Regions from separate parts of the Homo sapiens genome. Here region 2 is linked to region 1. Evidence: fine-mapped expression QTL. A gene starts in region 1. The other region holds a variant in brackets. All regions are shown on one strand. Distances are from middle to middle. Region 1 holds the start of FAM53C (family with sequence similarity 53 member C). Region 2 overlaps CDC25C (cell division cycle 25C).

Region 1 (8,328 bases):
TTGTTGCCTAGGCTGGAGTGCAATGGCGCAATCTCAGCTCACTGCAACCTCTGTTCAAGTGATTCTCTTGCCTCAGCCTCCTGAGTAGCTGGGATTACAGGCATGCGCCACCACACCTGGCTAATTTTTGTATTTTTAGTTGAGACAGGGTTTCGCTGTGTTGGCCAGGCTGGTCTCAAACTCCTGACCTGAGGTAATCCACCCACCTCGGCCTCCCAAAGTGCTGGGATTACAGGTGTGAGCCACCATGCCCAGCCAACAAAACTCTTAAAAGCTCTACGTTTGTTAATGAGGTTGTTTTCCTAGCAAACATTTTCACTATCTCCTCATGATTCCAGCTGGCTTAGCTAATTGCAACATACTTAGCTAATTACATGTAAGTTTACATGCATACATACAAACTGTGAAATGGTAGAATTATTTTAAAGGGAAGTCAAATATTGTCTTTTATATCTTGATTTATGAGGGTGTTGGAATATATCTAAGTTATCCTTCCCAGAAGAAAGAATATTAGGGAGGTGGGAAGTTTGGTGTTTAATCTGATTTGAAGATTTACTTTTTCTGTTGGATTGAGGGCATTGATCCTATGTCATCCTTGGGGAATCCCTATCTAGGCTCCTGATTCACTGTGATAAGCAGTGAGCTGTGTTCCTTCACCTTGACCTCAGTCTGACTCATACATGTTGTTGCCAGGGCACAGTGACAGCCCGGGCTTCACCCTGAAACACCAAACAAGAACAGGAGGTACAGCCATCACTCCTGGGATGCCCAGATCAGGCAGTGGAGAAGAGCCCTGCATTCCTGGGATCCTCCCAGCCAGCCTCTGCAGGGCAGAGGGGCTGAGGGGTGTGTTTTCTATTCCTGGTTCTTTTTATGACTGGTAGGCTTAGCCCTACTTCTCCCCACTTTGCAGAGGTTTAGCTTTCACTGGGTGAAAAGGGAAGGTCTGAATCGAGTGCATGTTCCTCCAACTCGGCTGTTCCTTCCTAGGCAGGGAATGAAGAGTCTTAGAACCAATGGATTCCACTCCTTTGGATGACCTCCTGGATGACTGGCTCCAGGCCCTGGAGCCCTCAGAATATGGATGGAGAGTATCCTTTGCTGAAACCCACTGGAGCAGGGTCACAGATGGGGTTTGGCCCATGAGGGCATAATTAAGATGCAGTTCAAAGCAGTGGCTCAAGAACAAAAGACTAAAAAGGGGGCAGCAGGGAAAGAGCAGGACATGAGTAAAAAATCCTTGGGAACTAAAAGTGGAATAAGGAGATTTAATTATGGGTAGGAGTGTTGGGCTGCACTGGGAGGCCATTTTATAGATGACGAAAGGGGATGTAACCTTCCTTTGAAATGAGGCCTGAAACTTGACTTGCAGGGTTTTTTTTTTTGTTTTGTTTTTTTTGTTTTGTTTTGGGTCTCAGTTTCTTTCAATGTTTTGCAAATGAGCCAATGCCTACTTTTAACTCAACCATTTAATTCATAATAATTAAATTATTAATTTAATTAATAATAAAAAGGTGAACAGCTTAGTGGTGAAAAGCAAGGGCTTTTAGACTGCTTTTTGAGAGTACCTTTGCCTACCATGTGGGCAGTCACTTAACTTCTTGGGCTGTTTCATTTGTCAAAGAGAAGGTTTTGTTTCATTTGATGATTGTAAGAAAAAATGAGAATATATATCAAAGTATGTAGGTCAAGTGTGGTGGTTCACACCTGGAATCCCAGCACTTCGTTTTTTGTTCATTTGTTTTTTTTTTTTTTTGAGACAGAGTCTCATTCTGTTGCCCAGGCTGGAGTGCAGTGGCACAATCTCGGCTCACTGCAATCTCTGCCTCCCCGGTTCAAGCGATTCTCCTGCCTCAGCCTCCCGAGTAGCTGGGATTACAGATGGGCGCCACAATGCCCAGCTAATTTTTGTATTTTTTAGTAGAGACGGGGTTTCACTTTGTTGCCAGGCTGGTCTCGAACTCCTGACCTCAGGTGATCCGTCTGCCTCAGCCTCCCAAAGTGCTAGGATTACAGGTGTGAGACACCACGCCAATCCCAGCACTTTGTGAGGCCAAGATGGGAAGATTGTTTGAGGCCAGGAGTTTGAGACTACCCTGGGCAACATAGCAAGACGCCTCTCTCTACAAAAATAGAAATAAATATGCTGGGCATGGTGGCACACCCCTGTAGTTCTAGCTATTCAGGAGGCTGAGATGGAAAGGATTGCTTGAGCCCAGAAGTTCAAGGCTGCAGTGAGCTGTGATCGCCTCAGTGCACTCCAGCCTGAGCAACAGCAAGACCCTGTTTTTACAAAAAAAAAAAAATGTAGCATGGTGTCTGGTACATAAGAGCAATTATTGGAAACCATGTGTCCCCTACTTCATGGCCCCTAACTCTGCTCCTTTTGCCAAGGGGAAATAAGCAGTGCAAGGTAAATCTTTCCACCCCTATTTTCTCAGTTAGTACTGTACCTCATTTTTCCTCTACTCTTTTTCAGTTTGTAGACTTGGTGGCTCCTGCCTCCTCCCCTCCCTGGCTCAGTGAGGACGACCCCCGCCACTGGCTCTACTTTCCAGCTGATCACAGCTATTTACCTGTCCCAGTCTTGAGTAAGGCACAAAATATTTACAGAAAACAGATGTCTTTCAGAGGACTTGCTGCTAAGTGTAATAGTGAAGATTACTTGCATTACTGCTACTTTCCAATCAATTAAAAAAAAGAAATAGAAAACTTTGTATTACAAAGAGATCACAACACGAACGCATTGTTTAAAGCCTCTCCTTTATCCACTTTTTTGCTTGTCTCCCTAAACCATCTGTGATGCTAGCTGAGACTCGAATTTACATAAGAGCCAGAAACCATCAACCCAACCTCTTCACACACTAACGTCTACATTCAATCTCTTTAAAAAAGACTTAAATTTTGGCTCATGTGGGAGGTGGTGGTAGTGGTGGAGACTTAATAAAAGGTGGTTTTGTCTTCCTGAAGTGGAAATATAGCGCCGTCAACATCTTTTCCCCATCTGCCTGTTTCCTCCTTCCCTTTCTGTTTAAGGAAAGTCTAACCACCGCACTTCTCCCCACCTCCCCGCACCTCCCCCCAGGCAAACGCAAGCAACTGAACCGCCTATGATGTCATAATCACAATCCCATTACCTCATCCTGCTGGGGGGGAGGGGGCGGAGAGAGAAGAGAGGGAGTGAACAGCCCTGGGCTATCCTGAGCTTTACAAAGTGTTCTGGGTGAGGGCAAATTACAGAACCAAGTGGAAACGTCCCCGCAACCATTATAAGTCCTGGGTTTTTAAGGTTCAGGCCGATCCGGCAGCTGCAAGAGGGGCTCCTGGGACTCCGAGCAGGCCCTAATCCGCGCTTGGACCACACTTCCCAGCAGCCTTCACGCCGCGGACGGGTCCTTTGCTGGGGGAAGGGGGATTCCTTCGAAGAGGTGGTCGTGGAGGGCGGGGCAGCAGAGCAGGTGAGGGGCACTGTGGCTAATTGCGTGACGCGGCCCGAACCGAGTGGGAGGCTGCAGTTGGGCCGTTGGAGGGAGGGAGGGCAGGGGCGATGCCTTTGTTTACCTTCTTCCGACATGGCCTCCCCCGCGGGTTTCAAGATGTGCCTCCAACTGGGGCCGTCCACTTTCTGCGATATTTTGGAGGGGGTGACTCGTTAGTGAGGAAACCACCCCCATCCCTAAATCAAAGCGCCAGGCTCGTTCCCAACAGCGCTGTCCGAGAGACACTTTGAGAGAGACACGACACGGAGCTGCGCCCTCCATGGGTGGCTTGGGGGGATTCTGCGAGCCGGAGCTGTCCCCCTACTCTCCTCAGGGACTCGTTGGTTCGCGCCAGCGCCTTTTAAGGGCACCGTGGGGCGAACCGAGCGCTCAGAGCTGCTCCGGCCGCGGCCCTGGGAGCTGGAGGAACCGCGGTAGGTGGTGGAGGGCAGGTGGCGCTGGGGCCTCGGGGCGGGCACCTCAACCGTCCCTCCCTCCTTCCCTCTTTCCCCTCCCCCAGCCCGACCGCCCGCGCGGCCGGGCCTCGCTGGCCGCCTCTGCGGGGAGAGCACGGGACCCGGTGGGGGAGGGGGTGGCGGAGTGCTAAGTCCCAGACCCTCCCCATCCCCTGCGTCCTGAGTTCGCTTCCCGCGGCCAGATGATGGAACCTAGTGGGAAGAGGCGAACGACAGCCCCCCTGAGCGAGCCCTGGCGCACCCCCCCCCCCGCCCCGGGGACCAGCGGACGCCCCATGCCCCACCCCGCGGGGACAGGCAGGGCAACAGAGGGAGAGGTTGAAGATTGGAGGGGCCTAGCCTTTTGCTTCTTCATGGGGGTGGGGGGAGGGGTGTTCCCCACTTGTCACCCCTTTCCCCACCAGAACCATATGGAAGAAGAGCAGGCAGATCTCCACCTACCTGTTCATGCAGCTCCCTGCCTTCCTCATGTTTTTCTTCAGTCTCCCCAGGAGGTGTGGGGCTGGGACCTGAGGGGAAGGTCCCCAAAGGGTTTGTGACTCTCCTCCCTGTTGGCCTGACCTGATCCTACCTTGTCTTGGTACAGCACAACCTCAGCATCCCTGAAACAGGAGTGTCAGGGGTTACTGCCATCCAATAGGAGATGGGGTGGGGGTCTGATCTTTATTTTTGGGGGCTGCTGGTGGAGGGAAAGCCTGGACTGAGAGTTAGGTCTGGTGGGGTTGCTGAGAGGGCCTAGCGGCCTGCTGCTCTGTGAAGGGCTGAGCCCCGTGCCAGTTGTTAAACTGAGAAGTTTTAACTTGTTTAGTGAATATTCAGGGCTGTCTCTACCCTTCAGATACACAAAATGGAAGGGGAAGGAAGGCGGCAAGAGAGGGCTTCTTACACTTTTTTCAATGCCTGCTTGAGAAAGAGGAGGCCCCTCGCGGAGCTGGTTTGCCTTCTTTTGTGTCCTGGTTTGATTCCTTATGGCTTCCGTTCTGTTCCCCCTCGCAGCCTGGCCTGTTTTAGGAAACTCAGGCTGAGAGTATCAGTTGCGTGGTGGTAGTTGCATTGTTCCAATTACCACTGTGTGTGGCCACATCCCAACAATTAAAATGCAGAAAAACACAAATTCACTGTCTTGACTTGATCCTAGAGGTGGCTGGGAGTTTGCTGTTTGTCCAAATGCCTCATGAAAAGCTGGAGAGTTTGCTTCATTCCCTGCTCCTCATAGCTGGTTAGCCTGAGGCCTGGGGTCTCTAGGGTAAAATCCTGCACTTAGGTTCCCTCTCTGGTTGATCTTTGAGGGCAGCAGAGTTAAGAAACCAAGAGCAGAAGTGATATAAGCTTTAGCTTCTCCCGTAAGAATATAGGGGAAGCAGCTGAAGAGAGCTCCCCGGAAGCTAGAATTTTGTTCAGGGTGGTAATAATTATGCATGAAAATGATAGTTAACTGTAATGATGATTGACTTCTCTTGCACCTTTCTTCCAGAGAACTCCAGGTACATCCAGGTTTATCTCTTTGCTCTTCCTTGTGCCCTCCTTCTAAGGTGTGAGTGGGGTAGAGATAATTCCTCTTTTTTGTAGAGTGATCTGCCCCCAAGGTCACAGAAGGAAGAGCCCTCTTGGGCTTTTCTTAGTGTGCAGGTGAGGGAGGATGGTATTCAGCCAGAGAGATGGACCCTATTGCCTTCTTCATCTTATTGATTTCATTACTTCTGACATTCTGAGGCCTTGAAGATTCACAAACGGGAACGAGAAATGGTAGTCTGTGTGGACTCCTGATTTTTATAGGTCAGATGGTACATTTTGTACATTTTAATATGTTATATTGTTCCTGTGACAGGTTAAGATTATTCTGCCCACTTTACATATGGGTAAACTGAGGCCAAGGAGTATTAAATGATTTGTCAAAACTCTTAGCAAATTGGATTAATAATTAGATTTCTTGATGATTTGTTCTCTTGACTAGCTAATGCTACACACATTCTCTGGTAAGCTGTCAGCTTGCTGCTCATTTCCGGGAATAGATAGAACAAAATCAAGACACTGGCTTAACCTCCCCTTTTCCCTTGAGCAAGGCCCCTCAGGTAATTGTGTGGGCTTGAAGCCTGTTATCTGATACAGTTAGTTTGCTTCTATCAGAAGTTGACCACGAGAAAGAATCTTGGTTAACTGTATCCATGGACTTTGCATCAGATGAGGCTAAAAACTTAGTTGAACAGTCATGGAGTTGTTGTTTACGACGTCTGTAGAGTTGAAATGTATTGGAATTACCCTGACCATTTCTTTATCTTCCCATTTGATAAGAAAACAAACACTGTATCTATTGGAAAACAATAATATATCAGATGTTTAGGCTGTGGGAGGACATAAAATCCTATGTACTCAGGTCTAAAGCAGAAAGTCTTGCCTACAACCACTGTTCTTCCTTGTTCTCTTATTACTATTTCTGTAGTTTAGGAGAAGGGTACCTCTTTTCACTTCTGACTGGAAGATAAAATACTGGGCTGATCTTGATGGAAATAATCATTTGGGCATCCCTCTCTCTCACTTGAGCAGCTGTTTTCTAAGTGGTGCTGGTATTCCAGTTAGAAACAACAGAGCATGAACCAGTTTAAGGGTAGCAAATAAGTTTCAACTTGATTGCCAACTCTATTTTATTTCATATCTGGACTGCCAAGTTCATAATTTCTGAAGCTGTGTTTAGGCTTAGCTGGAAAGAGCTGTGATCAATTGATGTCTGCCAGAGGCCTGGCTTAGGGGTGCTGTGGTATGTGTGCCATGCATTTTCCATCTCTGGACCAGGTGCATCTCTAATATCACTTGGGGCTGGTCCCTCTAATTGGCAGACTCAGCAGGCATGACTGGAGAGGGAAGTCCCAATGGTGCTAGAATGGTGCTGCAGTGGCAGAAGACGGCTCACAAGTGAGGTCTGGAAGAACAACAGGGAAGACATCCATCATTTGCTCCAAAGTGTGCAAGTCAAATCCTGGGGAGAATCATGATAACCCTGATCACTGAGCAGCTACAGAAGCAGACTCTGGATGAGCTGAAATGCACACGCTTCAGCATCAGTCTGGTAAAAGACCAGTCTTCCTGCTTCTCCACGACCCCCTCCCCCTTTTTTCTGAGGCTGATTGTTGCTATTACTTTACTCTTGTCCTGTGCTGTATGAATCATGGTACTTAACCTGGAAGAGCCCACTAATGGCTCAAAACCCAGCCCAAAAGGAAGGGGGCAGGGATTTTTCCACCGATAGAGAAGGGACAGCAAAACTTGGGTGGAGAAGGGTTTGAGATGTTGGAAGATGTGGATTGTTTGACTTACTAACTTTGGGAAGACAAGAGGAAGAACACTTAATGTCCCTAACATCCCTGTAGCTCATGAATCGCAGAGGAGAACTGAAGAGGGCTTCCTAGAAATCTGTCAGTGTGTCCTGAATCCAAATCATGATGGATATTCTCTCTTTCTTAGCCTTTGCCTGATCATGCAGACATCTCCAACTGTGGGAACTCTTTCCAGCTTGTGTCTGGTAAGGCATCGTGTGTGTTTGTGTACGTGTGTGTACCCATTCCTCTCTCCACACATTTCTATCATTGGTTTCCAGTGACCAGGGCTAGCGAGCCTACCTCTAGAACCTTCTTGCCAGGGTCAACTTCTGAGATTGACAGTTGTCTTTCATGTTCTAGCATGAAAGTTATCTGGTTGGTTTGCTCTTATTCTAGCTTTGTGGGGACTTGTATAATCTAATTTTTTGAATAGGTAATACATTCACATGGTTCAAAATTTAAAAAATAACAACAAAAAGGTTATGCTGAGAAAAGTCTCTCTTACTCTCCCGTTCCCTATCTACCCAGCTTCTACCACCTCCCTAAAAGTATTAGTTTCTTATACAGTATATGTGACTAGAATTTCTTTATATAAAAAGAAGCAAATGTATATATTTATTTCCTTTCTTTTTTAAGTTCTCGGATACATGTGCAGAACGTGCAGGTTCGTTACATAGGTGTACATGTGCCATGGTGGTTAGCTGCATCTATTTTATTTCCACGTTTTTAACACAAAAGGTTGCATACTATATATTATTTTGTACCTTTAAAAAAAAAAATGGGACCGGGCCTAGTGGGTCACACCTATAATCCCAGCACTTTGGGAGGCCAAGGTGGGCAGATCACCTGAGGTCGGGAGTTCAAGACCAGCCTGACCAACATGGAGAAACCCCATCTCTACTAAAAATATAAAATTAGCCAGGCGTCGTGGCGCATGCCTGTAATCCCAGCTACTCGGGAGGCTGAGGCAGGAGAATCACTTGAACCCAGGAGGTAGAGGTTGCGGTGAGCCAAGATTGCGCCATTGCACTCTAGCCTGGGCAACAAGAGCAAAACTCT
Region 2 (8,328 bases), 55 kb before region 1:
ACCTCCACCTCCCGGGTTCAAGCAATCCTCCCACCTCAGCCTCCTGAGTAGCTGGGACTACAGACATGCACCACTGCACCTGGCTAATTCTTAAATTTTCTGTAGAGACAGAGGTCTGACTATATTGCCCAGGCTGGTCTCAAACTCCTGGATTCAAGCAATCCTCCCACCTCAGCCTCCCAAAGTACTGGGATTATAGGCTTAAGCCACCGCACCTAGCCCAAGAAGCAGGTTTTTGTTTGTTTTTGATACAGAGTCTTGCTGTTGTCACCCAGGCTGGAGTGCAATGGTGTGATCTTAGCTCACTGCAACCTCCACCTCCCAGGTTCAAGTGATTCTCCTGCCTCAGCCTCCTGGTAGCTGGAATTACAGGTGCCTGCCACTACTCCTGGCTAATTTTTTTTTTTTTTTTTTTTGAGACAGAGTCTCCGTCACCAGGCTGGAGTGCAGTGGCCCAATCTTGGCTCACTGCAACCTCCACTTCCTGGGTTCAAGCACTTCTCCTGCCTCAGCCTCCCGAGTAGCTGGGTATTTTTAATAAAGACGGGGTTTCACCATGTTGGCCAGGATGGTCTCGATCTCCTGACCTCGTGATCTGCCCACCTTGGCCTCCCAAAGTGCTGGGATTACAGGTGTGAGCCATCATGCCTGGCCTGTTTGTATTTTTAGTAGAGATGGGGTTTCACCACATTGGCCAGGCTCCTCTCAAACTCTTGACCTCAGGTGATCCACCCTCCTCAGGCTCCCAAAGTGTTGGGATTATAGGCATGAGCCACAGCGCCCAGCCTCGAGAAGCAGTTTTTAGCTCAAAACATTTCTGTTCAATATTTCTTTACCTCCTGATGAATAAATACCAGTGCAAGGACACCAATGCCGAGCACACCCCCTACATAGCCTCATACTGAGGTCTCTGGGCTGGGGTTTTAGTGCCTGCTCATATCCTTATCTCTCAAGCCAAAGCAACCCTTATGGCCCTAAATTCTCAAGAGCTTACCATTGAGGCTCTTATAGATTTAACACCCAATACAGGGCCAACTCTGGAAAGGCACAGTGGTTTTTTTTTTTTAGACAGGGTCTTGCTGTCATCCAGGCTAGAGTATAGTGGATGGATCATAGTTCAATGCAACCTCAACCTCCTGGGCTGAAGCCATCCTCCTGCCTGACCCTCCCCAGTAGCTATGACTACAAGTGTGCACCACCATGCCCAGCTAAGTTGATTTTTATTCTATAGAGATGGGGTCTTGCTATGTTGCCCAGGCTGGTCTTAAACTCCTGGTCTCAAGGGATCCTCCCACTTTGGCCTCTTAAAGTGCTAGGATTACAGATGTGAGTCACTGCACCTGGCCAGGCACACTGTTCTTTGATGAAGGTTTGGTAACAGCAAAATCCATGAAGTGGACAGGCTCTGGAGCCATACTGTCTTGGGTCAAATCCCTACTCCACCATTAATTAGCTTTGAGATCTTATTACTTGACTAGGTGCAGTGGCTCACGCCTGTAATCTCAGCACTTTGGGAGGCTCCAATTGAAGACTAGAGCTCAGATTGCCTCCATGAAAGTTAGAAGGGAGAGGGCTGGGTGCGGTGGCTCACAACTGTAATCCCAGCACTTTGGGAGGCTGAGGCCGATGGATCATGAGGCCAGGAGTTCGAGACCAGCCTGGCCAACATGGTGAAACCCCTTCTCTACTAAAGATACAAAAAATTAGCCGGGCATGGTGGTACATGCCAGTAGTCCCAGCTACTCAGGAGGCTGAGGCAGAATCGCTTGAACCTGGGAGGCAGAGGTTGCAGTGAGCCGAGATCGCGCCACTACACTCCAGGTTGTTAACAGAGCGAGACTGTGTCTCCAAAAAAAAAAAAAAAATTCAAATTAGAAAAAAAAATGCAGGCCAGGCGCGGTGGCTCACGCCTGTAATCCCAGCACTTTGGGAGGCCGAGGTGGGCGGATCATGAGGTCAGGAGATCAAGACCATCCTGGCTAACATGGTGAAACCCCGTCTTAACTAAAAAATAAAAAAAAAATTAGCCGGGCATGGTGGTGGGTGCCTGTAGTCCCAGCTACTCGGGAGGCTGAGGCAGGAGAATGGTGTGAACCCAGGAGGCGGAGCTTACAGTGAGCCGAGTTCACGCCACTGCACTCCAGCCTGGGCGACAGAGTGAGACTCCGTCTCAAAAAAAAAAAAAAAAAAAAAGAAAAGAAAAAAATACAAAAATTATCCAGGTGTGGTGGCAGATGCCTGTAGTCCCAGCTACTTGGGAAGCTGAGGTGAGAGGATTGCTTGAGCCTAGGAGGTGGAAGTTTCAGTGAGCTGAGATTGTACCACTGCACTCCAGCCTGGGCAACAAGTGAGACCCTGTCTCAAAAAAAAATAAAATAAAATAAAAAAGAGTTAATCCCTCTGTTCCTCAATTTCTTTATCTTCATAAAGAAATGCTCATAATAATGAATACCTCTTTCACAGGCTTGTGAAAATTAAATTAGTGTGTATTTATATAGGAGTTTATATATATATATATATATATATATATATATATATATATATATGAGTTTAGAGATAGCCTTGTATACAGTAAGCACCTGAAAAATGTTAGCTACTATTGTTATTCCTGAAAATAACATGAATCAAATCATATAGTCCCTATACAATGAGAGGATATTACAAGAAATCAGTGGGCTTATATTAGGCCAGGCGTGGTGGCTCACGCCTGTAATCCCAGCACTTTGGGAGGCCGATGTGGGTGGATCACGAGGTCAGGAGTTCAAGACTAGCCTGACCAACATGGTGAAACCCTGTCTCTACTAAAAATACAAAAATTAGCCAGGCGTGGTGGTGCATGCCTGTAATCCCAGCTACTCGGGAGGCTGAGGCAGGAGAATTGCTTGAACCCGGGAGGTGGAGGTTGCAGTGAGCTGAGATCGCGCCACTGCACTTCAGCCTGGTGACAGAGCAAGACTCTGTCTCAAATAAAATAAAATAAAATAAAAAATACCAAAAAATGTTGACTTGGGTGAAAATACAATTTTCCATGAGGAAGATAATTAAGCCTTAGTGTTTTGTTTTGCAACTCAGATTTTCCACTTAAGACTACTGACTAGTGGGCACATGTACATCAATCTCTATCTATGTTGGGACTTGGTTCTAGCCTTCTGGGGAGAATTATCAGGAAATGGAAATGACCCACTAGGGTAGGCAGTGAGTTAAGGACCTCTCCTCACACTTCGAAGAGGTGCTTCAAGCAGTTTTCTTTTCTGGCTACTAGGAATTCCTATAGGGGCACGTGTGTGGGTGGGGCAGAGGAGCAGCATCTTTCCTTTGGCCATCTCCACCTAACGTAGCAGCAGCTTTTCTCTTTCCCCTAGACCTTCTGGGCTTTGAGTTCAAGGGATTAGGGAGAAGGCCACAGAGACAGCTTCCTTTTTGACAGACAGGCAGTAGCTAGGAATGGAAGCTACAGACTTCAGCAGGATGGCTTGGAGAAAACAGCAGTGCCCTCTGCTGTGAAGCATGCATGTGACACTCTAGGGCAAGAGCATGTGCAAACCTTGTCAAATAAAAAAATTAAAAGCCAGTCCAACCACTCAGGCACGTGCATGGGCCGCCCTATGGCTACAACCCCCCTTCCCTCCCACTCACTTTAAAAAAGTGTCTCTGTTCCAGAGCCTGGGAAGAGGGTATGTTTGTCTCTGTTCTGTCTCAGCCTAGGCTGTAGAGGGCTTCGTCCTGTTCCGTCCTGGGCTATCAGTCCTACTAGGTTAATACCAGAGAATGACAATGTTCAGTCAGTTCTACTGCCACCCAAGACCAAGTAGTGCCACACCTTACTACAGATAAAGGCCTATTCATATTAAAAAGCTCCAAGAAAGGAAACCCTGGCATACTGCAGAAGAGTACAGTTAAAAAATCTTCCTGAAGTCTAATGGATCTTGCTTTGTTTTATTCCTATCTTCATATATCACAAATCTCTACTTCCAACCATCCTAAATCCTAAAACTTGTCTTTGTGAGACGTGAAATGGAGTGGAGAAAAGACTTAAAAGTCAAAACCCCCCTAAGGCTATAGATAGGGAACTTTTTTTTTTTTTTTTTGAGATGGAGTCTTGCTTTGACACCCAGGCCGGAGTGCAGTGAAAAATCTTGTTCACTGCAACATCTGC[C/T]TCCCAAGTTGAAGTGATTATCCTGCCTCAGTCTCCCGAATAGCTGGGATTACAGGCAGCCACCACGATGCCTGGCTAATTTTTGTATTTTTAGTATAGACGAGGTTTTGCCATGTTAGCCAGGGTGGTCTTGAACTCCTGACCTCAGGTGTTCCGCCAGCCTCAGCCTCCCAAAGTGCTGGGATTACAGGTGTGAGCCACTGCCAAGAGGGAACCTTTGAGCCCAGCTGAGATCTGTCATTTGCCTTAGAGAATGTCTAGATACCACATGCTGCTGAGTCTGTGGTGCACTTTTAGTAACGCATACCATGGAATGATCTAGGAAAGGAAAGCCCAGGACATTGCTGAAGAAAACTGTTTGAAAGGCTTACCTTAATTCCAGAGCATTGGTTCATTTTTTTTTTGAGATGGAGTCTTACTCTGTTGCCCAGGCTAGAGTGCAGTGGATTTTGGCTCACTGCAACCTCCACCTCCTGAGTTCATGCAATTCTCCTGCCTCAGCCACCCTAGTAGCTGGGATTACAGGTGTGTGCCACCATGCCTGGTTAATTTTTGTATTTTTTTTAGTAGAGATGGGGTTTCACCATGTTGGTCAGGCTGGTCTCGAACTTCTGACGTCAAGTGATCTGCCTGCCTTGGCCTCCCAAAGTGCTGGGATTACTGAGCACTGGTTCTTAAGCCTTACCATGTATTAGAATTAACTGAAAAGGGAGATTTTTAAAACCCAGATTTCTGTGCCCTAACCTCACAAGTTCTGATTTAAGAGGTCTGGGGTGAGGCCTGAACATCTGTATTTCAAACAAGTTCAGATGATGTTGATGATCTAGGGTCCAAACTTTGAGAATTACTGGTTGTTTGGTATTTGTTTTTTGAGACAGTCTCTCTCTGTTGCCCAGGCTGGAGTGCGGTGGCACGATCTCATTGCAACCTTCACCTCCTGAGTTCAAGCGATTCTCCTGCATCAGCTTCCTGAGTAGCTGGGACTACAGGCACACGCCACCATGCCTGGCTAATTTTTGTATTTTTAGTAGAGATAGGGTCTCACCATGTTGGCCTCGAACTCCTGACCTGAAGTGATCCACCCGCCTCGGCCTCCCAAAGTGCCAGGATTACAGGTGTGAGCCACGGCCTAAGAATTACTGGTTTAGAGAAAAGCATGTTGGCCTCAGCTATGAATAAAGATAGTATGTCTGAAGTAGTCTAACTTGGTGATCTCCTCTGTAGACAGATCTTCTAGGAGCAGGCTAGGCTCACAATCACACCTCTCATTCTGTAGTGTTTATTTTTCCATTTTTAAAAAAGAAAGAGGGGGAAACAAAGAAGGAAAATACAAAGAAAGAAGGTAGACAACGCTCTTGCATAGCCCGAAGCCCAGAGAGAAAGAGTTGGCTGGCTTGTGAGAAGACATGAGGAGTTGGGAAAAGGAATGCCAGAGTTCCCTGAACCAATACAAATCTCTATGCAACTCAAGGCTGCCTTATAGAGCCAGCTCCAGGACTCTGCCACCAGCTTTCAGCTCTGCTGAAACCTAATCCATTCCCAGGCCTGGATACAAGTTGGTAGCCTGTTGGTTTGCAGAGACATCTTTTAATAATCTTGGGTTTGGCCATCCAGAAGGCCTCTTTCTGCTCAGGGTTTCTGCAGTGTCTTTTGGTGACTTGTTAGCAGCCAGTGGCTGGAATGTTATCATGGGCTCATGTCCTTCACCAGAAGGGCAATCTGCTCCCGCAGCTGCCGCTCCCCTTCCTGCACTTTGCTCTGGCTTCGACACCTCAGCAACTCAGTCTTGTGGTCCTGATGATGCATAGGGCAGTAGCTCTGTGGTTCACACAGTTCCTGAAAGGTAAGGAACAGAGTAAGGGATTCTCTAGACTCCTGAACTCTACCTATGAAGGATAATAGAGATGCTGCTGCTGGCAGTGGCTAAGGAGGAGCAGCAGTTTCTTCTCTGAAGGCTTTGCAGGCCCTGGGAGTTGAGTTGTTAAAGTTTGGCTCCCCGCATGCCCCACCCTTTACCATATATTCTGGAAAGAAGTCTCTGTAGCCGCCTTTAAGGATATATAGCTCTGGGTAGTACAATGCAGGATACTGGTTCAGAGACCTGTCCTCTTCACGCAGACAGCGGCACCTTTAGAGAGAACCCAGAGATGGGTGGGGTGGAAAGAAACAAGGTCAGGATCCCAGGGGCCATTCACTGGGGAGGGGGGAGAGGAGTAGACTATTGCCAACCTCAAAAAGGACTTTCCAATCTCCCTGTGTTTGCAAAAAAAGGTCCAAGTAGTACCACCCTTCCTCCTTTCCTCCACTGCAGCCTCATTCTCAATCCCTTTTCCTTTATTGTTTCAAACTTTTCAATTTTAGAAACGTCTTCCTTCAACCTCCCTAACATTCTTCAAACTGTAGAATCCAGTCAGTCTCTGTCTGAACTGGTGTGGGAAGTCCAACTCAAAATCCATTTCCATCACCCGCCAGACCCCATTTAGACACTCACATTCGGGGGCCCCTCTCTGAGGAGAATTCACAGTGGAACACGATGATTATTCTCTTCTGGGTGTCCAAAGGGACGATGGGCTTCTTCAGAAAGAAGTTAAACAGTTCTTCCTGACTATATAAGTTTAAGGCTCCCTGTAGAAGAAGAATTTTAGTAAGTATTTCCTCAGGGGCTTATAGACAGTGCCAATACTTAGAAATGACTGAGACGCCAACCTGGGATAATGTGGACCAGAAAAGCTGGACTATAAGCACCTTTAGGGCAGGGGTCTAAGTATATCTCTGTATATACCCTGAACGCCTGGCATAGAGCTTGTAGATGGTCAATAAATGTTTATAGACCTGAACCACTGGAAGTATAGAGATCACTGCGAGGAATGTTCATGAATAGTAAGTGTTTGCAAAGTGCTTCAGTCCTTGGATTAATGTTTTTATTTCTAGGTAGGACCCCTTGGCTCCTACAGAAAAGAGGGAGATAGATCTAGGAGGGAAAGGGAAAGTAACCTGCTTAAGGTATACAGAATTAAAACAATGAGGACCTCAGCCTTGAGGTGCTTCAAATATGTAATCTTTGTCCTGACTCTAGAGTTCATAGACCCCTTTGTCCACAGACTCTTCTCAATAAAGAGTTATCTCCAGCCCTCCCCTACTAATGGCCACAATGTCGTCTCACCTGGATGTGTCCTCCCAGATACTCATATGGATAGCGACAATCAATGACATAAAACTTCTCAATCAGACCCTGGAACTTCCCCGACAGTAAGGCAGCCACCTGGACAGAAACAATGACTGAATATTCTGCTCACTGCCACTCTGAGGGAGAGAAGGGTCAATGACACAGTTCCTTACAAGCATACTCCTGTTCTGTCCACTGTATGTCCAGCCTCCAAAGTCACCCCATATTTGATATGTGGCAATGATTCAGCCCCACTCCACAAAAGAGAATGAAACAGGAAGTGGCCCTTTTAGAGAACCAAAATAGCTGGCACTGACAAGATACCAAGGAAAACCATATTCAGGCTACCCATCTGGGGATAGGCATGGCTGGACTCAGGAGATGCCCAAGGACTTCTGCAGTGGCAGAGGCAGCAGCTAGAGAGCTTGAAATTGCAGGAAGAAATGCAAAATGGTTCCCTACCCACCATCAAAAAGGAAGAAAGTAAGTCTTTCAGGAAAGGATATGGAAGGGAAAGGTTGATACCTAAAGGAAGGAAGAAACTGAAGCTACTTGTAGGAGTGCAAATTGGTTCAGCCTTTCTGAAGGGAACTTTGTAAATACATATACAAATAAATGTAATCACACTTTGACTCAGCAATTTCTAACATCTTAAGTAAACAGGAAAAGTACACAAAGATGTAGGCACAATTATATTCATCTCAGCATTGTTTTATATTATCAATATATTAGAAATAACTTCAATATTCAATAATAGGGGTTTGGTAAAATAAATTGTACATGTCAGTAGAATAGAGCGGCATTATATAGCCATTAAAATGATAATATAGATACCTTATTGATATAGAAAGATGTCTATAATGTCTCACTAAGCAAATTGCAATACTATACGTTCATCATGATCCTTTTTTTTTGTTTTTTGAGATGGAATTTCGCCCTTGTTGCCCAGGCTGGAGTACAATGGTGCCATCTTGGCTCACCGCAACCTCTGCCTCCCGGGTTCAAG

The links. PIP is the estimated chance that this variant, and not a neighbour inherited with it, causes the effect.
Region 2: its variant is the best candidate, but not a certain one, in a credible set for the expression of FAM53C in whole blood (TOPMed, PIP 0.58).

What each region holds. Positions count from the first base shown.
Region 1 is chr5:138,334,395-138,342,722 of GRCh38, forward strand. FAM53C (family with sequence similarity 53 member C) reads left to right here and starts at 3,872. Exons shown (of 5, transcript NM_016605.3): 1 at 3,872-3,913; 2 at 6,790-7,019; 3 at 7,415-7,472. The coding sequence starts at 6,942. LOC100128966 (a long non-coding RNA gene) reads left to right here. Exons shown (of 4, transcript NR_146628.1): 3 at 991-1,091; 4 at 2,480-2,752. It also overlaps a transcript of CDC25C not described here. RefSeq lists enhancers at 3,022-3,101, 3,272-3,751 and silencers at 3,832-4,181, 4,232-4,321.
Region 2 is chr5:138,279,850-138,288,177 of GRCh38, forward strand. It overlaps CDC25C (cell division cycle 25C), which reads right to left. Exons shown (of 14, transcript NM_001790.5): 11 at 7,320-7,418; 12 at 6,648-6,781; 13 at 6,173-6,284; 14 at 5,420-5,992. The coding sequence ends at 5,843. Among named protein-coding and RNA genes, the nearest start is that of GFRA3, 9.4 kb to the left of the region's middle. The variant C/T (reference allele first, on the strand shown) is at 4,157.